Linked DNA regions of Homo sapiens: region 2 is linked to region 1. The links come from fine-mapping of genetic effects on gene expression. Tissue or cell type: whole blood. Region 1 holds a variant in brackets; the other region holds the start of a gene. All regions are shown on one strand. Distances are from middle to middle.

Region 1 (8,275 bases):
AAACTCTTAAGTAAACTAGGCACTTAAATGTAAAACCCAAAAACTATAAAAATCCTAGAAGAAAATGTAGGCAATACAATTCAGGACATAGCAACAGACAAAGATTTCATGACAAAGACTCCAAAAGCAATTGCAACAAAAGCAAAAATTGACAAACGGGGTCTACTTAAACTAAAGAGCTTTTGCACAGCAAAAGAAACTATCGTTGGAGTTAGCAGAAAACCTACAGAATGGGTGAAAATTTTTGCTATCTATCCATTTGACAAAGGTCTAATATCCAGAGTCTACAAGGAACTTAAACACATTTACAGGGAAGAAACAAACAAGCCCATTAAAAACTGGGCAAAGGACATGAGCAGATACTTCTCAAAAGAAGACATAAGTGCAGCCAACTAACATATGAGATACCATCTCATGCTAGTCAGAATGGCTATTAAAAAGTCAAAAAACAACAGATGCTGGTGAGGATGCAAAGAAAAAGGAATGCTTTTACACTGTTAGTGGGAGTGTAAATTCGCTCAACCACTGTGGAAAACAGTGTGGTGACTCCTTAAAGACCTAGAACCGGAAATACCATCGGACCCAGCAATCCCATTACTGTATATATATCTAAAGAAATAGAATAATTCTATTATAAAGATACATGCATGCATATGTTCATTGCAGCACTATTCACAATAGCAAAGACATGGAATCAACCTAAATGCTCATCAATGATAGACTGGAAAAAGAAAATATGTACATATACACCATGGAATACTATGCAGTCGCAAAAAAGAATGAGATCATGTCCTTTGCAGGTGCATGGACAGAGTTGGAAGCCATTATCCTCAGCAAACTAATGCAGGAACAGAAAACCAAACATAACATGTTATCACTTATAAGTGAGAGCTGAATGATGAGAACGCATGGACACAATGGGAGAACAACACACACAATGGGGCCTGTTGAGGGGTGTTGGGGGAGGGAGAGCATCAGGAAGAATAACTAATGGATGCTGGGCTTAATACCTGGGTGATGGGATGATCTGTGCAGCAAACCACCATGGCACACATTTACCTATGTATCAAACCTGCATGTCCTGCACATGTACCCCTGAACTTAAAATAAAACTTATAGGAAAAAAGAAAAAAATTAAGGACAGATTCCATTATGAATAATAACAAAATAAAATGAAATTTGGAAGAAAATTGCCTATAAGTAGTAAGAGAATCTGGCTGAAAGCAGATAAGGTCATGGACTCTAAAAAACAGCATGCTCAAATATGTGATAGCTTTTATTAGGAGGCAGAAACATTTCCAGCCTCATTGCAAAAGGGAAATGTTGACTAGCAAAAGCTCATACTAGGGAATAAAATAGGAGACACCTACCTGCCAAAGAAGATGGGATTGTGCTACATTGTTCTAGGAAGGAACTTTAAAAAAATCACTTGAAGGGTTCCCAAAGTAGCCAAAGGTGGGGAGGCCGTCCATTCTACATGATCACCTGAGACTGAGGTAAATCTTCTGAGTTCCCAGTAAGTCTATTTTCAAATTACTTTTAGTTTGCTTTTATAAAGTGGCTTTGTTCTTGAATTTGCATGGTGATTCTATGCATATTATCTTGAGTCAATCAAAATCTTTACTCTCCCTAAGGTACTACCTAATGTCAAATACTTCACAATCTTAGCAGAGTCTTAGGGCTAATCATTAGAATGTATTGGGAGGAAACAAAGGCTGCCATAGGAATACCCCACTGGCATGAACATGTATGGAATTCAAGTATGTGTCTGTCTTCCTAGAATACTAAAAACTATATTTTCCTTCTTTTAGCTACACTAAAAAGCTACAGAAATGGCAAAAGCCAATGGCATCTTATGTACTTAAAAAAAGAAATCCCAAAATATTGATCAACACTTTCTACTTTTCCTCTTACATCTATTGACAAGGATAAGGATATTGACAAAGATATTTACATGAATAAAATATTTTTAATGTTTGATCAATAGAAGAGTTATCTTAGACCACTGATAAAAACAAACAGGAATTCCACAATTCCAGTTAATGTTGTGGAGTTAAAAACCCCATGACTGTGCCTGAAAGGTAGATGGATCTAATGCACATGTGTCTTTCATTTAGTGAGACATCAAGTTGTTTGTGTGTACAGTACATTCATGTTCTTTATAGTATGCTGAGATTAACAATAATTTGAAAAATAAAAAAGTTAACATATTCACCTTATTAATATTTTCTGCGGCTTAATAGGAACAGGCAAGGCTACCAAGAAAATAATTTAATCTGAGATTTTCTATATTTATACACAAGTATTTCCATGGGGGTAAGAATCAAAAAGCTCTAACAAAAATTGTCAAAAGAACTGGAGATTTTCTTGATGTATTCTGCTACATCATTCCAAAATATCTGATGAAAACTGTGGCAAATTATGCAACTCTAAAAAACTGAAGTGAAACTGATATAAACTTATCCTATCATCTCTGGATAATCAAACTGTCCTTCATATTATAATTTATCATTTCCTTTGGTTTCATTGCTAAATCACTGATACCTGATCTATACCACAGTAAATCTTCATTTGGCTTATAACATCTTTTCTTTACCATTCTCTCTTCCTCAAATAGTGAAATTAACCTTGAAAACATATTTCAAAACTCACCCAAGTTCTGTCTAGTCTGCAAAATTTCTAGTTCCAAACACAGTATCAGATATTTTTGTTCATACATCCTTACTACTTTTACTGTTCAACTCTCACAAGAGAACACAAGAAAAATGACCTCTATTTATTTTGCACTTGGCCAAAAACATCTAAGCAAAAATTTGTATTAATCAAAAAAAAAATGAAGAGAAGAGAAATATTTTTATTAAAACTGTTGCTTTATTTTTATTATAATTTGAGGAATTGGTAATTATTTTTATAACTAGAATAAATAATTTCTCTCCAACTGATTAAAGTATGGTACTGTTGATATGGTTTAATTAACATTTCTGTGTAACAACCTCTCTAAAATCCTCAGCAACAAGCAATGATAGAAAATCATTTGTAATGCTGTAATATTCATTTTCTTATTTGTAGTATATTTACTATTACATTTTCCAAGGATACTTTACAGCCATATACTTTTTTTTGATAAATATGAGTAATCAAAAATTTAAAATCAATGAAAATTATTTTAGGGCTAATTATTTCCTGATTTAAACTGTGCATTTCAAAATACCATTTTGCATTATAAAACTCACCATATTTTTTTGGTTTCTGCATTTTTGTACTCCCTTCCCTGCTTGGAAAACACTATTTTATTTCAAGCTTCAGTTCAGATCTTCTAAGTAGCTTTAAAGAACTAGATCCATCAGAGTCAATACTCCACCCATGCTCCCCATCCGCTCCCACATACTTCGAATAGGGCTCTTGCTGTACTATAACAATTATTTTTTGTGTTTGTCTCTTTCATTAAACTTTGAGTTCCTCAGTGCATTTATTTCCTATGACTGCTGTGACAAATTACCCAAACTTGGTTGTTTAAAACAACACACATTTATTCTCTTATAGTTCTGGAGTCCAGAAGTCTGAAATCAGTAACACCAGAATAAAATCAAGGTATCATCAGGGCTGCATTGCCTCCAAGGCCATTAGGTGAGAATCTGTTCCTTCCTCTTCCAGCTTTTTGTGGTTGTAGCATTCCTTGGCTGGGAGCCACATCTCTCCAATCTCTGCCTCCAATGTCACTTTGCCTTCTTCTCTGTCTGTGCCAAATCTCTCTATGCCTCCCTCTTATAAAGATCTATGTAATTGTATTTGGGCTTACTTTGGTAATCCAGGATAATCCTAGGATAATCAAAATCATTAACTTGATCACACCCACAAAGTCTTTGCCATATGATAACATTCGCATGTTCCACAAATTAGGACATGCGCATGCGGCGGTTGGGGGAGATGGAGGGAGTGGTTATTCAGCCTATCACACCCAGTGAGGGAAAGTTATCTTATTCATGTTGGTACCTTCAGTCCACAGCATATTGCCTGGCACAGAGTAGGTACTATATAATTGGGGGATAAAAACATAAATAATTTCATTGAGGTCTTTAATTGCATATAAAGTCATGGAAAATTGTGAGTTCATAGCATTTGATAGAGTTCAGCGCTGAGATACATTGAGGCTTAAACAGGCTAATTGTAATGTTTTTAATGGCATACATAGTAAATAAATTTGTTTTATAATTAGGTTCCTATTAAATGTCTAACAATATTCCGGAGTTATGCAGACATCAGATATGGAAAAAATTCTTCAGATAACACAATTTACAAGTAAGTAAATGTAAATTGTGAAAGCATAGAACATAAAATAAGAAACAGCTTAACAGTACAAGCTCATTACTTTTCCAATTAAAAACACAATTCAAATGTTTACAATTATCATCTTTAGAAGGTTTGTTTTATTTTAAATGATACATACTAGATAGTAAAATATTCCTTAATTCATATAAATCAACTGAATCTCTCAGACACTGAGTAATGCCTCCAGTGAATGCTTGGCTGGTTTCCTGGTCTTTGTGCCATTTTGGTGTGACTTAATCATGGATAATAAGGAACATTACCATAACACATTAAATTTTTTGCATTTTGATCATAGATAAAAAATTCTTCAGGGAATATCACATCTTTGCAATTATGATCTTATCTGTATTCCACAATTCCAGTTAATGTTGTGGAGTTAAAAACCCCATGACTGTGCCTGAAAGGTAGATGGATCTAATGCACATGTGTCTTTCATTTAGTGAGACATCAAGTTGTTTGTGTGTACAGTACATTCATGTTCTTCATAGTATGCTGAGATTAACAATAATTTGAAAAATAAAGTTAACATATTCACCTTATTAATATTTTCTGTGGCTTAATAGGAACAGGCAAGGCTACCAAGAAAATAATTTAATCTGAGATTTTCTATATTTATACACAAGTATTTCCATGAGGGTAAGAATCAAAAAGCTCTAACAAAAATTGTCAAAAGAACTGGAGATTTTCTTGATGTATTCTGCTACATCATTCCAAAATATCTGATGAAAATTGTGGCAAATTA[TG/G]CAACCCTAAAAAATTGAAGTGAAACTGATATAAACTTACTGCAATCATAAAGTTCAAAACTATTATTTAGTGAATACAGACACACTTTGCATACATTGCCAGTTTGGTTCCATGCCAAAACAATAAAGTCAAAATCTCAATAAAGTGAGTCACATAAATGTTTTGCTTTCCCTGTGCAGAAAAAGTTATGTTTACATGACACTGTAGCCTATTAAGTGTGCAACAGCATTATGTCTAAAGAAATGTACATAACTTGCTAATGCCTGTAATCCCAGCACTTTGGGAGGCCGAGGCGGGCAGATCACAGGGTCAGGAGTTCCAGACCAGCCTGGCCAATGTGGTGAAACCCCATCTCTACTAAAACTACAAAAATTAGCCAGGCATGTTGGCGGGCACCTTAGTTCCAGCTACTTGGGAGGCTGAGGCAGAAGAATTGCTTGAACATGGGAGGCAGAGGTTGCAGTGAGCTGAGATCATGCCACTGCATTACAGCCTGGGTGACAGAGCGAGACTCTGTCTCAAAAAAAAAAAAAAAAAAAAAAGAAGTACATAACTTAATTTCAAAATGTTTATTGCTAAAAAATGCTAATAATCATCTGGGCCTTTAGCAAGTTGTAACCTTTTTTGCTGGTGCAGGGTCTTGCCTCAATATTGATGGCTGCTGACTGATCAGGGTGGTAGTTGCCAAAGGTATTAAGTGGCTGTGCAATTTCTTAAAATAAGACAATGAAGTTCATGACACTGATTGACCCCTTCACAAAATATTTCTCTATAGCATGGGGATGCTATTTGACAGCATTTTTTCCTCAGTAGAACTTCTTTCAAAATTGGAGTCAATATTCTCAAACCCCACCTCTGCTTTATGAACTAAGTTTATGGATATTATAAATCCCTTTTTGTAATTTTAACAATGTTCATAGAATCTTCGCCAGGAGTGGTTTTTATTTCTTTTTTTTTTTATTTTTTTATTATTTTTTTATTTTTTATTTTTTATTATACTTTAAGTTTTAGGGTACATGTGCACATTGTGCAGGTTAGTTACATATGTATACATGTGCCATGCTGGTGCGCTGCACCCACTAACGTGTCATCTATCATTAGGTATATCTCCCAATGCTATCCCTCCCCCCTCCCCCGACCCCACAACAGTCCCCAGAGTGTGATATTCCCCTTCCTGTGTCCATGTGATCTCATTGTTCAATTCCCACCTATGAGTGAGAATATGCGGTGTTTGGTTTTTTGTTCTTGCGATAGTTTACTGAGAATGATGGTTTCCAATTTCATCCATGTCCCTACAAAGGACATGAACTCATCATTATTTATGGCTGCATAGTATTCCATGGTGTATATGTGCCACATTTTCTTAATCCAGACTATCATTGTTGGACATTTGGGTTGGTTCCAAGTCTTTGCTATTGTGAATAATGCCGCAATAAACATACGTGTGCATGTGTCTTTATAGCAGCATGATTTATAGTCATTTGGGTATATACCCAGTAATGGGATGGCTGGGTCAAATGGTATTTCTAGTTCTAGATCCCTGAGGAATCGCCACAATGACTTCCACAATGGTTGAACTAGTTTACAGTCCCACCAACAGTGTAAAAGTGTTCCTATTTCTCCACAACCTCTCCAGCACCTGTTGTTTCCTGACTTTTTAATGATTGCCATTCTAACTGGTGTGAGATGATATCTCATAGTGGTTTTGATTTGCATTTCTCTGATGGCCAGTGATGATGAGCATTTTTTCATGTGTTTTTTGGCTGCATAAATGTCTTCTTTTGAGAAGTGTCTGTTCATGTCCTTCGCCCACTTTTTGATGGGGTTGTTTGTTTTTTTCTTGTAAATTTGTTTGAGTTCATTGTAGATTCTGGATATTAGCCCTTTGTCAGATGAGTAGGTTGCGAAAATTTTCTCCCATGTTGTAGGTTGCCTGTTCACTCTGATGGTAGTTTCTTTTGCTGTGCAGAAGCTCTTTAGTTTAATTAGATCCCATTTGTCAATTTTGGCTTTTGTTGCCATTGCTTTTGGTGTTTTGGACATGAAGTCCTTGCCCACGCCTATGTCCTGAATGGTAATGCCTAGGTTTTCTTCTAGGGTTTTTATGGTTTTAGGTCTAACGTTTAAATCTTTAATCCATCTTGAATTGATTTTTGTATAAGGTGTAAGGAAGGGATCCAGTTTCAGCTTTCTACATATGGCTAGCCAGTTTTCCCAGCACCATTTATTAAATAGGGAATCCTTTCCCCATTGCCTGTTTTTCTCAGGTTTGTCAAAGATCAGATAGTTGTAGATATGCGGCATTATTTCTGAGGGTTCTGTTCTGTTCCATTGATCTATATCTCTGTTTTGGTACCAGTACCATGCTGTTTTGGTTACTGTAGCCTTGTAGTATAGTTTGAAGTCAGGTAGTGTGATGCCTCCAGCTTTGTTCTTTTGGCTTAGGATTGACTTGGCGATGCGGGCTCTTTTTTGGTTCCATATGAACTTTAAAGTAGTTTTTTCCAATTCTGTGAAGAAAGTCATTGGTAGCTTGATGGGGATGGCATTGAATCTGTAAATTACCTTGGGCAGTATGGCCATTTTCACGATATTGATTCTTCCTACCCATGAGCATGGAATGTTCTTCCATTTGTTTGTGTCCTCTTTTATTTCCTTGAGCAGTGGTTTGTAGTTCTCCTTGAAGAGGTCCTTCACATCCCTTGTAAGTTGGATTCCTAGGTATTTTATTCTCTTTGAAGCAATTGTGAATGGGAGTTTACTCATGATTTGGCTCTCTGTTTGTCTGTTGTTGGTGTATAAGAATGCTTGTGATTTTTGTACATTGATTTTGTATCCTGAGACTTTGCTGAAGTTGCTTATCAGCTTAAGGAGATTTTGGGCTGAGACGATGGGGTTTTCTAGATAAACAATCATGTCGTCTGCAAACAGGGACAATTTGACTTCCTCTTTTCCTAATTGAATACCCTTTATTTCCTTCTCCTGCCTTATTGCCCTGGCCAGAACTTCCAACACTATGTTGAATAGGAGTGGTGAGAGAGGGCATCCCTGTCTTGTGCCAGTTTTCAAAGGGAATGCTTCCAGTTTTTGCCCATCCAGTATGATATTGGCTGTGGGTTTGTCATAGATAGCTCTTATTATTTTGAAATACGTCCCATCAACACCTAATTCATTGAGAGTTTTTAGCATGAAGCGTTGTTGA
Region 2 (8,000 bases), 150 kb before region 1:
GTTTCTCTACGTGGGTGGTGAAAAAATACCTTACTACAGTCATTAATTCTTTCTTTCAAAAGAACCATGTGTCTTGAGAAGTTCTGCTCCATCACAGGGCAATATCCCATTTTAAATACAGTGTTTACCGATGTTTGTCCATGAATGACGTCAACAAAAATGTTTAAATCTCACCAGGAAAGGAGGGCTTAGTTGCCAGACTTTGGGAGACAGAGTTAGTTGATCTTTGCGCTCTCAAAGGCTCTGTTACTCAATTAAGTGACCAATCATTAACTCCAAAGTATTTAAGCCTAATAATACAACAAAAGAGAGAACAATGGGTAGTATCTTTAACATTAATCATGGTCACCTTTGGTTTAGCTGTTTAGGTCCTTTCCTAGCAGAATTTACAAGTGTATAGATACAGGTATTCTGGAATATCAAAGGCATCTCCCTCCAGTTTGCAAACACAGGGAAAAAGAAGAAACTTACATCTGTAAACCTATGTAAATCTAGGGGGATTCCTTTCAAACCTCGTTTTTTTGAAAGCAGGAAATACAATTTAAAACCAACTCTGTTTTTATCTACCAAAAGAATCAAAACTTTGAATTCTGACATAAATCCTAAATGATTGTCTTGAATCTCATCCCGCTTCCTACCTAATCTTCTCACAAGAAGATTAAGGACTGTGGACTTGGTGCTGGAGGAAGTAATTGCTCAATCACATTGGAATCCATTGGAACCCTTTACAATATTACTGCGGGCAGACAATACAATTCTAACATATTTCTTTCTTTACTCAGAGCTCAGAACAAGAAGTCAGACTCTTGGAGACCTTCTCCCTGATGTACTGCTCTTAACATTTCCAAGTTACAAACTGGGAACCGCTTCTATCTCAGAACACTAATTGTTGCTTCCATTGGTACCTTCCTATTTTTATATTACACTCACAACATCCTATTTTAGGACTTTATGTGAATATTTTCAGGATGGGTTTGGCGAAATTGTCAAGAAGTGCTTAAAACAATTAGGTCACAGCTTTCAGCAGACAAAAAGAAAAAGACGTGGCTGTTAGCTACAGAATCTGAGGTGATGGAAAAGATCTTTAAAATCCAGTTCTTCCAATATGCAGCAAAATGGGAGGACTTAAAATGCAGCTCTAAGAAGCACCGTCTCGTCTGCACCAAGCTTCTCCAGGTTTCCAGCTCAGTCACTCCCTAAATAGGTGCTGAGCTTCCAGTCCCCGCCAGGTCCCCGCTAAGGTTCCTCATTGAGGCACAGGAACCTCAGTTACACTCGCAGCCCTTCCATGTTTGCCCCCATGAAATTCTATTAGTCTTGTCGAATGGCAGTATTTGCCATTCCAGGCGAACTCTTTATGACAGTCTGGAACGAAATTAATCTGTTAATTGACTAAGAATGGGCTTTAGAGTGACCTGAATGTATTTAAAAAGTCAACAAATGGAATACGGTATAAAGTCTCATTTTTCTGACAAAAAGTTTGCTTGGAGTAAATTTTAACCTCTCCCCTGCCTCAAAACAAAAGCACGATGCCCCTCCTACCACTCCCAAGAAGCAAGCAAAAATAAAATAAAATAAAATAAAACTTAAATAGCCTTTTAATAAGAGTGTTCAGCGCTGTCTGGATGGAACTCGGGTCAGCTCCAGAAGCAGCCGGCCCCGAATCCTGGGGGCGAGGCCACTCGGCTCTCTCGGTTAAGCTGGGCCCTGCCTTCCCCGCCCCGCCCCCATTGGCCTCGGTGGGTGGGGGCCTCGGCTGCGCCGGCCGCCTGTGCGGCTGTACTGCAGTCTCTGAGCCCAGGAAGTCACACCCGTCTCGGCTGGGAGCCGAAGCGCCAACCCACGTGGCGGCTGGCTAACCCAGCCGCTGCGGGGAGCGCCCGTTGCGGGTCCTCCCTTGGCGCGAGGTGAGCGAGTGGGGGCGGGCCCCAGACCCAGCCCCTTTGGGCGGGGCTGGACCACCTCCGCTTGTCTAGTTCTTTCCCACCCTTCCATCCCGGCACGCCTCTGCAGTCACATTTGTTGCCGCTGGGAAAGGGAAAAGAGTATCCTAAAACGAGTCTCGAAATTCAGACCCAAACCCCGAAACGAACCCTTCCGGTCCGTTCCTGGCTGTTTGAATGCCATCTGCCCCATCTCCGTTCCTTTCTCCTTTTCCTCCCCTCCACGGTCCTCTTTCCTTCCACTTCCCTTCCTTCCCTTTCTTTTTTCCTCCCACTGCCCGCCTTCTCTCCACTTTCCCGTCCGACGCCCGCCCTGAAGTTGAGGAAGTTTAAGTTTTGGATTAGGAGCCCTTCTTTTGCAATATCCTGGGGCGGGGCCCTAGCGTTGGGTTCAAGTGGTCATGGGTTTTGAGAGCACGGTATGTGTATTATCTTTCTTAAAGACGCCCAGGGTGGCGCGTCTAGACCTCCGAAACCTGGCTCCACCCTGGCCATGTGCGTTCGTCCACTAAGCGGCGAACTGGACCCAGGGCGCCGCGTGCGTTCCAGCCGACTCGCGAGAAGGCATCTCTGCACTTTGCACAGACCAAGACCTTTTTTCAGGGTCCTCCAAACTCCTAGATGTACGCCGCAGATTGTGGAGTGCAAAATGAATGACTTAAGGGAAAACTAGGGCCTTCCATCCTTGAACACAAGGTTGTGAAAGATGCTCGCTTGGTCTGGGGGGCTTGTTTTTCTCCGCCTGTGCGGGACTTCTCCATCAGGGGGCGCCCACACCCGCCGCAAAACTCCCAATTCCTAGACATCTAGGTTCTGCAAGTCTTGTGAGCTGAACTGGGGGCAGATCCGAAGGAGCGCACCGCCTCCCTCGCTCCTCCCTCCCTGCTGCCTTGGAGCACGGGAAAGGCAGGGATTTCACACTAGCCATTCATTTGTCAGCTGTGGGGGAGGGGACGCAGAAGCTAGAGAGAGAGAACAGAGGCTGGGAGAGGGGAAGGGAGGCAGAGAAGATGGAGACAGAGGGAGACACAAAGATGAGGAACGCGACCCAGAGAGACTCTGCCGCGGGTGTGCGCGCGGCAGGACAACTCTCCAGGCGCCGTGTAGATTTCTCCCCCTTCCCGCAGCATCTCCCAGGGACATGCAGGACTTGCCGAGACGCAGTTGGATTGGAGAGCAAATAGTTTAGGCTATGACACTATTTTTCTACCCCGCTCTCCTCTGCCTAACACCCAGACCGCTCCACGCCCAGTGACACAGACCGCGGGCCAGAACAACCCGGATGCCCTAGGTCTGCACGCACCAGGGATGTCGCCCTACAGCGCCCACGCCTCTGCAGGACGGTGGGGCGCTCCAGCCGAGGACGTCCCCCGGGGCTCCCGGCACACGCGCGCGCCGCTGCCGCTAGACCTGCCAGTAAAGTTGCTCAACTAGAGCGGAGAACTAGGAGAGGGTGGGGAATATGTAAGGAAACGGAGGACTCCTGTAGTCTGGGCGAGAGGACTGACCCAGAGGCCCCTGATTCGGGTCCCCGAGCCACCTTTGTCTGCAGTGCGCTCTGGGTGCCGGTTTGCTTGTTGAGATGGGAGCGACAGACCCTATTTCACTCTTCAGGGTGAGAAAAATTGTTGCACATCCCTGCCGATTCAGAACAGGCTTTTCCCGCCCAGGGGCCTCCCAGACCTCCGCGGGGCTCCAACAACCCCACCCCCCATCCTCTGCTCCTTCCCTGCTGGCCCCTTCGCACCGCGTGCAGGACAAAAGAACCCAGGGGCGCCGGGAGAGAACCGTGACAGTCCCCAAGTCGTCAAAGAGACACGGCGGGGATCCTGCACCTCCCCCGGCCGGACCTCCTCCCAGACTGCCTGCGGTCTGAAGGGGTCAGGTCCGCGCAAGGTCCCAGGCTGCTTGGGCGCCGGGTCGCACTGTCAGGAGCTGCCCGGGAGTGGCTTTCCAGGAACACCAGGCACTGACCACACACCAGGGGCTGGGAAACCAGGTGGCCTGCACCAAGGCGGCTTCGGGGACTTGTCTGTGGCAAGTCTTGGTAGTCCCCATTCAAACTTTTGCCTCGAGCGTGTTAAGAACAACAACAACAAAAAAATCAAAGTGCCAAAGGTCCCTCTCTTCTCTCCAGCTCAAGAACCCACCACTTTTCTATGATTTCTTTACAATTTATTCCCTCCCTTCCCCCAATTCCGTTAGTCATTTTACCCCCCACCCCACCCTGGGTTTCTTTTGTCTGAATCTTTTTCAACACCAAGGTCCCTCTGTATGCCTCTCCCCAAAAGCCCTTATGAAAGTTACCTGCATTTTTTAAGTGCCTACATTTTCTTAACTTCGCCTTACAGCTCTTTGCCTTAATTAAAGCCTTCTACCAATTGCTTCTTTTTTCTAAGCTCGCGGGTTTTTTTCTATAAGTTTTTTGTTTTTGTTTTTTAAGGGGGGAACAAAAGAAACGTGATTACCTTGGAAGGCGGCTTATTGCAGTTTGGGGGGAAAATTCACTGCAGCGCTGCGCGACTGGGTTCGGCGTTGCCCAGGCGGGTCACATAGGAAGCGTGGTGGCCCGGGGAAGGATGCGGAGGGTGCGGGACGGTGCTGGAAGATGCGGGAGGATGCGGGGCTGGCCGAAGATCTTGGTCCCAGCTCCTGTCCACAACACCTAATGTTCTCGGCTGTTGCGTCCGCACGCCTGGAGTTCTTCCCCAGAAAGGCTCGGGGCAGCTCGCCTGCAAGTTCAAATGCGGGTTGTGACACCCATCATCATTATATCACTGTACCGTCAGAGCCGAGGAGGAGACTCAGCGAGAAGAAGGAGGAGGGAGAGGAGGAGGGTTCATTCACAGGCTCCAAAAGCGCTCCGCAGCTTCAGCCACTCCTAAGAGTCCAGGCTTGGAAAGCAGGCGGAGGGGCGGAAAGGCAGCTCCCCGCGCCTGCGGTAGGGACCGCCTGCCTCCCTCCCCAGGCACTCCCACCTCTTGGCGTTTCTTCCTGACAAGAAGTACCAATCGGCTTGGGGACAGCAGCGCTCCCCATTCAGGGACTCACTCAGTAACATCGCTCTGCTCGCGGAAACCACTGCCCTCCCACTCCTTCCCCACCCCCATTTCCCCGCCCCCCGTGCAGCTAGTTCTGGGTTAGGGGAAAGGAGCCCCCAGGCTCTTAGGGGGCAGGCCAGCAATAGACAATTGAGTACGATCACTTCTTCTCGGGAGCACACAAAACTGTAAAATCAGCAAAGAACTTGGTTACAGCGTGTTTACGCGCCCACAGAGCTTGCCTGTCCCATCAAAGGGAAGTGTCAGGCTCAAGGCTCCTGCCAACCTGAAAGAGACACTGAGAAAACGAGATCCTTCGGGGACCTAGAGGGAAAGTGTAAGAATTCCCCACTGCACTCCCAGGGAACTGCCCAATGGGGAGCCCGGCTTCAAAAGACCCTGGTAATAAAAGGCTGGACAGGAAATTCCCCCAGGCAAATCCCTTGTCGGATTCAAAGAGAATACTTTTCCTCTGCCACAAATCTCTCCCCACATAAGTCTAGATTCTGCTTTCTTCGTTCTTCCTTTCCTTCAGTCTTTCCAAGTATCTCTGAGTAGAATATTTGATAATTTTCCTGAGTAACAGGGACTTCTTGGAAGTATCAATCACCTTTCATGCTTTCCGGAAATAAGACCATAATCTTTCATGCGTATATGCGATTTTTTTTCTTCAGTCAGGCCCACCCCACTGTGTAAACAGCATCAACACATGGAAGAGTCCCCTGCATTGTGTTACAAAAGATTTCCAATAGGACCTTACAGAGAAAAGGGTCAAACAGTTGACACAAAGGATTTCTGTCCCCTTAGAAAAGAGGGACTTTGGATTTTCCTTTTCTTTGAAGTCAAGTATGAGTTTATACAATAGGAACAAAATAAATCCAAGGTGCACATCAGTATAACACTAGGGATACTAGAATGGATGGCAAACTTTTCCTTCTACACAAATATGAAAGTATCCTCACAACTCTTCTCTCTGAAGCCTCTACTTAGAAAATTATATTAAACATAGGACCTCAAAACAGTAGTGATTAAAGATGAAAGCCAATTTTTCCTCTCAACTTCTTTGATTAGTTTGGTTTAAACTTATGCTTTAAAACTTTTAGTAACTTAGACTCCTGTACATGCGCATTTATAAGATTTCTTTTATATTTTGTAATTTGTAGGCATTCAGCATGGTCATTGATTTTAAGTGATAAACAGGTAGAAGACTTGTCAGGATAATTTCAGTTCTCACCATGTGCATCTTTCATTTCTTTTGTTATTTATCAGCCCTCTGCAGTAATATAACTGTCAGTTACATCATTTGGAAATCAATGTGTTTTTGCAGTGAATTATTTATTCTTAGTAAATTTATTGTACTACCATTCCAAACACTGAAATTTGATTTCATCAGATGTTTAGAATGATAGTCACAGAGCAGAATCAGACTTCAACCTTCATGTATAACATGTAAACAAACTAAGGTGCAGAAAGTTACTGTCCCAAAGTCACACAATTAATAGTCCAGTGGTCTTTTCAGTGCTAATCATAGCAACTTTAGATTCAAGATTGCTTGATTCAGGAATGGAGAGAAATAAAATAAAATGAATGTTCATTGAAATATATACTCCAGACATTAAGATAGACCTTTCTGTGAAACACTTCAAGATGTGGATTTGTATTCTCATTCTTAAATTTGAGTAAATCTAGTTGAGTTTCAAAGAGTTCAAGTAACCTGCCCAAGGCCATTTTGTAAGTGACAGATCTGCCAGTCTGAAAAGCTTATTATCTTTTACCCTTTTGTCCCTTTATGATACAGTTAAGTAAAACCTTTCAACAAAGGAGAACTAGATCAGAAACAAGCAACTAATAGCAGATTAATGCCCATTTTTAGGGAAATGTTAATAGTTAACATTCACTATAAATAATGCCATCTGTATATAATGGAACATGATTGAAAGTGATGGGTTAGATACTTTTTACATTCTGAGATGTTTTCATTTATGTTGCCAAATTTGATTCTCTAATCCTCCAAAATTTTTAGTTTCTTTTAATGCCAATAGACTTCACAACACTTGACCAAATACTTCTACAGGACAAAGGCACTTTCTCAGGGCTGACTTAAGGAATTAGAATATGCACAATGTTGAAAAGCTTTAAACTGCCTGTCTTTTCTCTTCTTTGACTTGTAACATTATTATTCAGAAAATTAAATACTTCTTCAGGCTATCAGATAACTAAAATGAAATTATACCCCATGGATATCTTCTTTCTATCTCTAGGGCAGACTTTCCCCTCTAGCTGTCTAAAATGGAGAATGGATAAAAAAGAAAAAGGAAAACATACCAGCTATATTTAGAATAGAGTCTACAGTTGTATTATTATTTCTATGTAACTGTTTTTAATGACTTTCCTTCATCAAGAGAAAGAAAATGAGAGAGCATTTATTTCTGATTCTCCAATGCCTGACAAAACTATCAGAAGTTTTTGAATGGGAAAATATATATTTTTCAGGTTTTATAACTAAAATTGTATTTATTTGTCCATTACACTCAAGTATGAATCAAACAGTAATTAAAATATTATTCTGTGAGTCCCCCTTTAAATCACATCCTTGTACTGGGGATATTCTTTGTGAAAACTCCAAGATCCCAGGTATAAATAAAGCAAGATCTTCATTCACAATGCTTGTGTCTAAAAGAAACCATAAGCCAGAAGCTATGTGCCTTGCTTCCTTGCTTTGATCTTGTCTTTGGGAATTTGGCTGAGCTCAGGGGCAGCAAGCCAATGACTTGGAGAGGAAAGGTGTAGATGGCAGATGTGTCTCCAGGGAATTTTATTATCTTCATCTAAACCTCCTTCTGAGGTTCTTTAGGATTACATTTCAGACTTCTCCTTTTTTATTGATCAGGTGAAGTGTTCTTAGACATGGCATCATCTATTGCTGCTCTAGGGATGACAAGATTCCAGTCCCATTCAAATTCAGAAAGAGCTTAGTTTCAACTCCTTGATCTGACTGGTCCTAGGCACAACTAAG

The links. PIP is the estimated chance that this variant, and not a neighbour inherited with it, causes the effect.
Region 2: VCAN starts here. The variant in region 1 is fine-mapped to the expression of VCAN in whole blood (INTERVAL, PIP above 0.99).

Annotation. Positions count from the first base shown.
Region 1 is chr5:83,318,148-83,326,422 of GRCh38, reverse strand. All of the region lies in intron 7 of XRCC4 (X-ray repair cross complementing 4), which reads right to left. Among named protein-coding and RNA genes, the nearest start is that of VCAN, 150 kb to the left of the region's middle. The variant TG/G (reference allele first, on the strand shown) is at 5,072.
Region 2 is chr5:83,468,435-83,476,434 of GRCh38, reverse strand. VCAN (versican) reads right to left here and starts at 4,691. Exons shown (of 15, transcript NM_004385.5): 1 at 4,412-4,691. RefSeq lists enhancers at 1-315, 316-838, 3,390-4,262 and silencers at 1,618-1,837, 1,868-1,957.